Regions from separate parts of the Homo sapiens genome. Here region 1 is linked to region 2. A link means that fine-mapping ties the variant in region 2 to the expression of a gene that starts in the linked region. Tissue or cell type: whole blood. Region 2 holds a variant in brackets; the other region holds the start of a gene. All regions are shown on one strand. Distances are between the middles of the regions.

The links. PIP is the estimated chance that this variant, and not a neighbour inherited with it, causes the effect.
Region 1: DLG5 starts here. The variant in region 2 is fine-mapped to the expression of DLG5 in whole blood (INTERVAL, PIP above 0.99).

What each region holds. Positions count from the first base shown.
Region 1 is chr10:77,924,166-77,929,639 of GRCh38, forward strand. DLG5 (discs large MAGUK scaffold protein 5) reads right to left here and starts at 2,590. Exons shown (of 32, transcript NM_004747.4): 1 at 2,052-2,590. The coding sequence starts at 2,355. It overlaps DLG5-AS1 (DLG5 antisense RNA 1), which reads left to right and starts at 2,647. Exons shown (of 1, transcript NR_024585.1): 1 at 2,647-5,474. RefSeq lists a silencer at 4,283-4,459.
Region 2 is chr10:77,872,042-77,877,515 of GRCh38, forward strand. The region is part of intron 1 of DLG5 (discs large MAGUK scaffold protein 5); the gene reads right to left. Among named protein-coding and RNA genes, the nearest start is that of DLG5, 52 kb to the right of the region's middle. RefSeq lists a silencer at 5,390-5,474. The variant T/C (reference allele first, on the strand shown) is at 2,473.

The DNA of each region.
Region 1 (5,474 bases), 52 kb after region 2:
GCGTTTTTCTAATGCATTAAGTAAAATGAACTTAACTTCTCCTTGAAAAGTATTTTTCTAAGGATTTCATGACCCTCTCCAAAGTCACATAACTCTGCATTGTGGTAAAACTGGGGTCTGAAATCAATGCCCTAGGGGATAAAATCCAAACCCTAATCTCTGCCTTCCTTAGAGGTCAAGACTAGCTCCTAGAACTTCAGCCCCATGAGGCCCCACATTCTCCACCAGACACGGAAAGGGTGAGACCTAATTAATGGCAATTGATCCATCAATCAATTTTCAGAGATTAAGGCGAGCGTTGATTCACATGCTTCCCAACGCAGACTTCCAGTCTGTACTAAGTTCTGTGCTTTACGAAAGACTTTCAGAAACAGATCTTAACTTCTTCATTCAGAGATAGATTAGATAGATACATAGATACAATTAAAAAGAAAAAAATTACTTTGTTGAGATCCCCTCTGTCCTTATCCTCATGGCCACATCTGACAGTCCCTTCCTAGCATCTCCCAAAGCACTATCCCAGGAAAGGACTAGGTTTGCCCAGTAACTCTGACATGACCACAACTGGGGGGAAAGAATGCAGGTTTGAGGGACAGAGATGCAAGTCAGAAGCTCAAAGTGGAGACGGGAGGGCCACCAATGAAATGACCTGCTGTGTGGCCAGCAATTTAGTCTCTCTGTCAGTTTCCTGCAGCTACAAAAATTGAGGTTAAGATGGCCAACGTAAGAGAGCTGTTACCAGGAATGCCTTATAAAATCATTCCCTTAATAAGTGGGGCTTTTAACAGCCAAATAAATGGGTCCCATCAGCCTTTGACCTTCAGGTTGCTAAGGGCAGTTTCTCAGCCCTCTCGGTTCACTTGTTTTTCTTTTATACATATATCCTTATTTATTTTTACTGTACCTATCGATTCACTGTTAAAACAGGGACAAGACCTAGAAAGATGGCACTTTGTTTCCTGGCTCTGAACAAGTTAAATCAAACAATAGGTTATAATTCAAAATTCCTGGTGCCCAATACTTTCTGAGCATTTTAACCACTCCAAGCCAGAGTTTTCTCTCTGGCAAAGAATAACAGAAAGCTCACATAGTGGCAACGACAACTGAACGTGATAAAGCAGAGCGCCTGCCACAACAGTAGATGCCCAATAAATGCTAGTTCTCCTCCTCCCTCAGTGCCATGTCTTCTTCCTCCAGCTGCCTTGTCTAAAAAGGCTGGCTTCCACACTCCACGGCCAGGCCAGGACAAGCCTACCACTTGTCAGAAACTCCCGCCAGTATCCGTTCCTGCACCCAGACACACACTTACAAATCAGTCATCCCCAAGACCAAAGACACAGGGGTTCCAAAAGGCACCCTCAAGGGAACCAGTCACCAGCCTTCCTCGTTAAGCAGCTCTGTGCTCTCAGGGAGAGAACTTAGCCCCAGCAGCCACTACTAGGATTTTCCCATGGTGCAATGCAACTTCCCCAACTTTTCCGGGCCCAGTTTCCAAAGAAACCCAGGCAGGCGTTGTGCACAATCAGCCACCAGTCTGGGAGAGACTGGGCTCTGAGCAGAGAAAAAGGAGCTGGGACAGCCAGAAAATGAAAAAGCAGTTGTGGCCCCGGCACAGGATGGCAGCGACCAAAACTTAAGAGTAGGGGTCCTGGCCCAAGTCCCATTCTTCTGGACGGTACCCTTGGTTAAAGGCTAGCACAGGGTGCCAAAGCTAGCGGACGGTGAGGAGCCTCAGAAAAGGGACTGATGGACATCCTCCGAGGTACCCCCTACCCGCTACTGGACCTGGTGGCCCCCGGGGACCCTGTCGTCGAGGCACCTGAGAGTGAAGGCCTTCAGCGGGGGGCATTGTTCACAGCGAACGGCGGGACTGGGGGAGGCGGCGGGACTTCGGGATCCGCGCACCGCCGCCTCCCCAACTGGGCCAGAGGAGCGAGTCCACCGAGGCCATCGCCAGGTGGAGCGGCGGCCCCGGCGAGGTACCCTCGGCCAGCAGGAGGGAGAAGCGGAGGGCGCGTCCCAGAGGCGGGGGCCAAGGGTCTGCCACTCACCCGCGCCTTCGGCGGGCTGCGGCGGCCCGACGACGCCGTTCAGGTAGAGAATGGGCAGCAGGTGAGGCTGCGTCTTCTCCAGCGCCGCCCGCAGGTCCTGGAAGTGGTCCCGCTCCTTGGCCAAGAGCAGCTTGAGCAGCAGCTCCGCCTTGGCGCCTCCCGCCTCCTCGTCCAGCTGCCGCCGCTCGCCGGGACTGAGCGCTCCCGCGGCCTCGAGCAGCCCGAGCACGGCTTCCACCTCCGTCATGGCCTGGGCCAGGCTCTGCTGACACTGGGCGAGCAGCTCCCGGCGCTGGGGCTCCATGGTGGCGGGCCGCGCCGCCCCGCCCCGCCGGACGCCTCCCGGGCCCCCCGAGGCCGGCGGGCGGGCAGGCGAGCACCTCGGCAGCAGCCCTAGGGCGCCGGGAGCCGTGAGGCGGCGGGAGCCATGGGCCGGGGCCTGGGCGGGCTGGGGGCCCGGGGCGGCGGGCGGCGCTCAGCAGCGGCCGCCTCCCGGGCTCCGGAGCGCAGCCATGTTGGCTGCCGCGGCGGCGGGACTGGAAGAGGAGGAGGAGGAGACGGAGGAGGAGAAGGAGGAGGCGGAGGTGGGGACGGCGGCCGGGGCGCGCCCCGAGGCCGGGCTCCAGCCGGGCATGCTCCCCCTCCCCCTCAGCCTCCGCGCGCGCCGCCCGCCCCGCGAGAAAACTCGCCCCGAAAGCCGGGCCGCGCGCCGCCCCCAGAGCAAGACTACAACTCCCGGGAGAAAGTCGCCTGGGCCGTGTTTCCCAGGCTCCCGACAGCTCCGGCCCGGCTCGGAGGCCGCCTCGGCCCCCGTGCACCCCGGCCCGGCTCACCGGGGCCCCGCGGCCGCCACCCGCTCCCCCGTGGCCACAGCCCCGCCGCCGCCGGCCCGTCCCTCCTCTCTCCCCTCCCCAGGCCGTCCCTCCGGGAGGCGGCAGCAGGGGAGGAGGGGACGGGCGGAGGGGAGGGGTCCCCGGCCCGCCCGCTAGGCGGGGACGCGGCGCCGGCTGGTTCCCGGTCCCCCGAGGCCCAGGCGCAGCCGGGGGTGGGGGACACGGAGTCAGGCCTGGCACGCGGCCAGCCCACAAGCTGCTGGAGACCCCCTCATACAAATCTTGCCCCCAGTCCAGAGGGTCCTAATCTGAGAACTCCAAAATACAGCCTGGAGACAAATGGTGGGGAGGGTTTCCCCTAAATTTGGACATCTCCAGATTAAGACCTCCGCCGAATCCGTGAGGCTTTCCCTCTCCAAGGAGCTCCTAAGAGAATTTCCCAGTAAAATCGCCTCAACTGCGGTAAATAGGCTGTTCCCCGCGCCAGCATTTGAGAAGAGCTGGTCCCCAGAGTGTAAAGGAGTTAGGATGTTGGCAGGAGGAAGGATGTGTCGCCGGATGAGGAAAAGAAAGGTGGGTGTCTGCGGTGCAGTCCTTGGTCTTTCTGGCAAGTGAGGCGCTCTCCCCCTAAATGTCTCAGAGGGAGACAAATCAGCGGACTACCTTGCTTCCTTTGATGACTTGGAAAGGATCTGCAGTCCCCCTTAAAGCCCAAGAATGTCTTCTCTTCCACGACAGCCGTTTGTGGACACATACTGCTTACCTCCCTGACTGCAGGACAAGGTCCTTCAAAGCTGGAACTCTGACTGCGCTCAGTGATCCCGCAGTGCTCCTCTGTAGAGTGGGAACCCAGGTCCATTTCAAATATCTACGTTGGAATGAGTGGATCTCGCTGGGGGTGAGAGGCACTTTGTCTACCCACACTGCCAGTCCCAGCCACATGCCTCCTCCCTTCCCTCAAAAAGCAGTGTCTTCTTAGTCTGCTTCTTCAAGGGGAGAAGTCGTTTTTATTTATGGAAACGAACTCACTATATGGTAGAAAGAACAAGAGTATCAGAATTTGCACTTTGGACTTGGACTCCCCTCTAAGCAGCTGCACAAGGTGGAACAAACCAATAATCCTTGCTGATCTGTTTTGTCCTTAGGAAAAATGGTGGAGGGAGAATATTAGATCAGGGGTTCTTAGCCTTGGCTTCATGAATAAGCTCAAGGATGTCAATGAAGCTTTTGACATGATCTCAACTTTTTTGTGAACATTTATATATTTTTCTGGAATGGGGTCCATAGAGTTACAAGTTCTTTAAGACCTCCAGATGGACCCCAATATGGCAGAAATGAACTATTTAAAGATACCTGCCTGCTCCCGTAGTCTGACCCTCTATGGCTAAGCAAGGTTTTAGAGGAGTGGAAGGCTGGCCATTGCACAGTATCAGGGTTCCAGACAGGCTCCCTGGCTCTTCCCTCCCAGTCCTGCTCCTGAGATATAGTTCTTTCTGGCCGCCACTTCCCTTAGGGCAACCCCAGAGCTTAAATCATCTGCAAGGCAGTCACCTTTCAGGCACCTTTCATCCGGCACCTGTGTTCTTAGCTGGATTAACTAGAAAGCTAGTTGGAGGAAGGAAGGTGAAAGTGGAGGAAGGGGAAAAGAGGAAAAGTTGGAGACGAATCTGGCTTATGGTTAGAAGCATATTTTTTGGCCAGGCAAAGTGGCTCACGCCTGTAATCCCAGCACTTTGGGAGGCTGAGGTAGGCGGATTGCCTGAGCTCAGGAGTTGGAGACCAGCCTGGCCAACGTGGTAAAACCCCGTCTCTAACAAAAATACAAAAATTTAGCCAGGCATGATGGTGCAAGCCTGTAATCCCAGCTGTTCAGGAGGCTGAGGCATGAGAATTGCTTGAACCCAGGAGGTGGAGGTTGCAGTGAGCTGAAATTGCACCACTGCACTCCAGGCTGGGTGACCGAGCAAGACTCTGTCTCAAAAAAAAGAAAAAAAAACTTATTTTTTGAGACAGAGTCTCACTCTGTCGCCCAGGCTGGATTGCAGTGGGGCAAACACAGTTCACTGCAGCCTCAATTTCTTGGGCTCAAGCAACTATCCTGCCTCAGCCTCCCGAGGAGTAGCTGGGATCATAGGTGCTTGCCACCACACCTGGCTAATTTTTTAAATATTTTGTAGACACAGGGTCTTGCCACATTGCCCAGGCTGGTCTTGAACTCCTGGGCTCAAGTTATCCTCCCGCCTCGGTCTCCCAAAGTTCTGGAATTACAGATGTTAGTTACCACCCGGACCAATTTTAGGATTCCTTTAGCCAGTGACCTTGGTGTGACCTTGTACTTCTGCAGCATTTTATACCTTCTGCGGCACACCCTTGTAGTGGGTCGAATTGTGTTCCCCCAAAAGATATGTTCTAGTCCTAATTCCCAGTACCTGTGAATGTGACTTATTTAGAAATAGGGTCTTTGCAGATGTAATCTAGTTCAAATGAGGTCATACTGGATTAGGGCGGGTCCTCATCCAATAACTGTTGTTCTTATTAGAATAGGGAAATTTGGATGCAGAGACACAGAGAAAATGCCATGTGAAGATGG
Region 2 (5,474 bases):
GGCTAGCCACTGACATGTTGGTGGATTGTTTTTGGAAGACGTCTACTCAGGAAAGCAGGCACAAATAAATTTCCCCACTCTCACCTCCAGAAATCTCTATGCTCAACCCATCCCAGCTTACGACACTGGCAGCCTGCGCTCCAGATGCCTCTGCTGGAACGCTCCCCTCTTTCTTACTCTTGGCATCAGCAGTGCCCCTTCTTCCAGTAAACTGCCCCTCCTCTTCAAATCGTCTCTCTCCTCCCCTGTGGCAAGTTTCCACTGTTAATTAAGCTTGGCAGATGCCCTTCCCTCTCTCCGCCCACCTACCTCCCTGGCTGGGGGAGTCCACAGGCCAAGCGACACGTTCTGTTCCTCTTCCCTGTCCCTGCAGTCCTGACTGGCCTCTGGGGCCTAACCAGGGCAGCGTGACATCTTTGTGTGCATCTCTGGGCATCACTCCCACCCCCAACCCAGGGAGCTGGCAGGGCTCCTAGGAGCTGGTGGGGGGAGTGGTTAAAATTGGACAGGACCCAGTTTTTACAATGTTCCCAGAGCCTTGGACGTCATTAAGGGGGAAAAAAGGCCCAAAGACGACATTGTCTCGGTCATGCTTTGTCTCTGCGGTTATTGTTGTCCTAAAGGCCTGTGTGGTCAGGACAGTCAGGAAAAGGCAAAAGAAGCCACTGTCCCCCAAAGTCACACGGTGTCCTTTCAAGGCCGGTTGCTTCCATGGGGCGGAGGGGCAGGTGTCGGCGTCATCTACCTCTGGGGTTTCGCCATCAAATTTGGAGTCAAATTTGGTGCTCCTCATCTTCTGCCATGGCCCAATCCAGGAGGAGACAATTTCCCCAGGTTCTCCTGAAGGCACCTCCACCCAACCTGCCCTGAAACCTAGGATGGGCTGCTGTGGAAGGAGAAACAGTGTGGAGGGACATTCTCTACCTCACAGAGTGCCCAGGGCTAAGGGGGACTGTAGGATCAGCCTCCTGATGTGTGTGTGTGTGTGTGCACACACACACACACACACACGAGAGGAGGGCACCAACCACAAACTTGTGCAAGCTACCAAGTACCATGCAGAGGTGCTGATGAGATCCAGAGAAAGTTGGATGATGTGGAAACATTTCCAGAAAAGGGGAGCTTGAGGCCAAGTTTAGACGTGGACATGTGGGCCAGAGCGTGATATAAGGAGATTCTTTACTATCAAAGGAACTACCTGGGCAACGTAAACTCTTATTCAGCAGATGAGGGTGGGGTTTCAGAATGCATTTCTCACAAGCCCCCAGGGCACATGCTCTACACACTGGCCCAGAGCTGGAGTCCACAGGTGGGATGCACATGGAAGCTGCAGCCAAAACCCTGGGAGAGGTGGAAGGAAGCCACTGGGAGGAAGCCAGCCTGGTGACCCTCTGGGACTGGCCCACGGGCACTGTCTGTGTCCTTTCCAAGAGCCCAGCCCCTGATAATTCTGTTTACCCCGTGACTCAGTGCCACTGGGTCACGAAGACCACTTCAAAAGAAATTCCAGGAAAAACCACCCGAACAATAATGGAATGCCCCAGCCCTCCCAGGCCCCCTCCCATAGACCATGAGGCCCAAGAGAGATGGAAGCACGCCCCCAACACACCCCTTCCATTCACCTGGAGCTTGTAAAGGCCCTGGTGACTCACGCTTCCTCTTCGTGAAGCTCACAGTGGCTGAAGGAACTTGTTCCAGCCTTGAACCAGCACACAGAGTTCTCCCTGTCCTCCAGAAGGGCCCAGGCAGAAAGGCAGAGAGCTGACGGCTCACGGTCACAGGGAGGCCAGCACCCCCTACCTCAATCCCCAGGGAAAGGAGAGGGAGACACCAAGCTGCTACTCTCTGGAGCTCTGGGGTCCCTGAAGACAGAGCAGGAAGTGCTGCCTGGGCCCCAGGAGGACAGTCACTTTCAGGGCACCTGCCACATCCTGCCGCCCTCCTCCAGCTCACACTGAGGAACCACAGCCTGACGAACCACAGCAGAATGACCGAAGGTGCCCAATCGCTCCCGGACTCACACGTGTCAGCCAGGTTTCCAACACGTGCCCCCCGCCTAGCATGGCACTGGGCCAGGTTCGGGAGAAAGAATGGCAAGCCAGGGGCTCAAGAGCCTGGAGGTTACTCATCTGCTGTGAGTAGCCTTCAGAAGAAGGCCCTTCTCTCTGAGCCAAACAATAATGATTGCAGCACAGCTGGGGCCAAACTGCTTGGAGTTAACTCCCAGCCCAGCCCCTTATGAGCTGTGTGCTGTTAGGTAAGTCACTCTGCCTCTCTGTGCTTCCACATACTTATCAGTAAAATGGGATGATAGAAGTGCTTATCTCTTAGAGCTGTTTGAGGATAAACTGATTTAATGCAGGTTGAGTATCCCTAATCCAAAAATCTCCAAAATCTGAAACTTTTTGAGCACCAACATGACACCACAGCAGAAAATTCCACACCTGACCTCATGTGATGGGCCAGTCAAAA[T/C]GCAGGCGCAGGATACAGTTTATTCTGCTTCCTCAAAGGAAAAACAAAATTATCTTCAGGCTATGTGTATATAAGGTGTATATGAAATGAGAATACGTTTCACATCTAGACTTGGGTCCTATCCCCAAGATATCTCATTATGTATATGCAAATATTCCAGAATCTAGAGAAATCCAAACCCCAAAAACACTTCTGGTTCCAAGGATTTCAGATAAGGGATATTCTGCCTGTTTGTGAAAAGTGACTGAAACAGTACCTCGCATAGCCGGTACTCTAAGTGTTAGCTGGTGTTATTATGGTCAGTCCAGACCTGCAGAGGGCCCTTCCAACTCTGCTGTTCAATTCCTCAATTACCTACATGGAAAGCTGTACTAGAGTGACAAGTCACACAATCTACAAGCAAACTGCTGCACTGTATATGGCACTCTCAAGAAAAATAATAGCAGCTAATAGGTACTAAGCACTACTAAGTACTGGGACTGTGCTAAGCACTTTGCATGTATTGCCTCCATTAATTTCCATAACAACCCAAAGGTTGTCATTATTAGTCCCATTTCACAGAGGAAGAAACTAAGAGTTAGAAAAATTAATTTGCTGAAGGTCGTGCTAGGGCTACTAAGAGCACAAACAGGATACAAACCCAGGCAGTCTACCCCAGCGCCTGTGCTCTCAAATCCTACACACAATACTGCTGCCCGGCTCCACAGGGAAGAGCAGTCAGAGAGGACTTCATGGAGGCAGGGGCCTGGAGCTGGCCCTGAAAGGTGGTGGCCTTGGATAAGCACATGAGAAGCCCGATCAGCTTGCAGGAGACAACAGGCGGAACCCATTTCTCTGGAAGGGTAAGAAGTCTCAGAGCAGGGCTGGCTTGGGCCAAGGCCCCCCAGCCTCTATTCCCTGGGAATGGGCTCACCTCCTCCCTGCCCACCTCCCCACACCGAGACAACACTCAATAGGCATTCTGAGCTGAGCCACTTCCACCCAAGTGGGAAGAAAGAGAAGGAGCTGTGGCTTCATGGCCCCCATTCCATACCCATGCCTGTGCTGCCTGCAGAGGGGAGTCGCAGTGTGTGGGCAAGCCTGCACTCAAGAGCCACTCAATTCTGTGAACTGCAGAGATGAGGAAGGAGGTGACCGTGAAAGTTGCGGAGTGCTATCACCTTTGGCAGAGCCCACCTTCTCTGTTTTAAAGACCTCCTGGGATGCTGGGGGGACAGAGGGCTCATATCCTACTATTAGGCTACTAGGAAGCCTGCTTGCAGAACCATGCTCAGTTCTCAGGAGGGAAGAAAGGTGGCAGGGAAAAAAAAAAGAAAAGAAAAAACTACACTCAGGGCAGCCCCAGCCCCTCCCTAGGGGCTCGGCCTCCTACCCTTTAAAAGCACGGCCCAAGGCTACAGACACTGAAACCCAAACTGGGAAGCGGACAAGGCCCAGTATTTCAGGGAGGTATAGGTTGACCATGGCCCTGGAATGGAGCAACCACAGACACTGGCATGTCATCAAGGAAGTCCTGCTGATGCGCCTTATATGCCACCCGAGGGTGGGAAAATCCTACTCTTGGTTTGTAAGTTAAGATTTAATATTTGTTTTCCTCAACTGAGATAATGCTATAGTATTTTCCACCAAGTTTTGGAACAAGCAGCATCACTGCGCTAAAAAAAAAAAAAATCATAATGATGTGGATTCCCCCTATTTCTGGTCGTTATAAGAACTGCTCACCTATCTTTAAAAGGTAAAGGTGGCCAGGTGAGGTGGCTCATGCCTGTAATCCCAGCACTTTGGGAGGCTGAAGCAGGAGGATCACTTAGGTCAGGAGTTCAAGACCAGCCTGGGCAATATAGCAAGACCCCATCTCTCTTTTTTTTTTTTTTTTTTTGAAAGAGAGTCTCACTCTGTTGCCCAGGCTGGAGTGCAGTGGCACAATCTTAGCTCACTGTAACCTCCACCTCCCAGGTTCAAGCTATTCTCGAGCCTCAGCCTCCTGAGTAGCTGGGACTACAGGCATGCACCACCATGCCTGGCTATTTTGTATTTTTTAGTAAAGACGGGGTTTCACCACGTTGGCCAGGCCGGTCTCGAACTCCTGACTTCAGGTGATCCACCCCAAAATGCTGGAATTACAGGCATGAGCCACCACACCCAGCCAATCCCATCTTTTTTTTCTAAGAGGAAGGAAGGAAGGAAGGAAGGAAGGGAGGGAGGGAGGGAGGGAAGGAAGGGAAGGAAGGAAGGAAAAAAAAAAAGTAAAGGGGAAGGGGCATTGCCCAGATAATTGGAGATTTAACCTCAGGTATGCAGTGAGATCTGTGTGGGGTGGCAGGAAGGAAGATGATGGCTGCCGAGCTCTCTGTCCATTCTTTTTTTTTTTTTTAAACTTTATATTTTAAAATAAATAGAGACAGGGTCTCTCTTTGTTGCCCAGGCTGGTCTCAAACTTCTAGGCTCAAGCAATCTGCTCGCCTCAGCCTCCCAAAGTGCTGGGATTACAGGTGTGCGCCACCACACCTGGCTTTTGTGTCCATTCCTTAACACATTCCCTAACCCCTTCCCACTGGACTTTTGAGGCCATTTATAAAATAATGAACTAAATTGCCTGAACCTGAGAAAACTCTCGTATCAATTTTGCCATCTGTGACTCCCCTCCCTTCCCCACCCAAAATGCCCCAAGGCAAAAATATGTAAAGAGAGGGAAAACAAAACATGTGCACCCCAGAATTAAATCATTCAGTACCATGCAAGACCCTTCACTCGCTAACTACAGGACTGGTTTTGGTCTTTTTCTTTACTTTTTTTTTTTTCCTCTTTTAAGTGGCAAGTGACAGGGACTAAAAAAAAATAAAATAAAACTAGCACATAAAGGAAAGATGGAAGTTTGTTGAATTTCGAGGGATGAAAAGAGTCCACAGTTGGATAGCCTGCTTGTCTTCATCAGCGAAGCAAAGGCTCCTGGAGGCTTTGGGATGAGCACAAAGCCTGTGTCTGATGAAAGCCACCCTCTT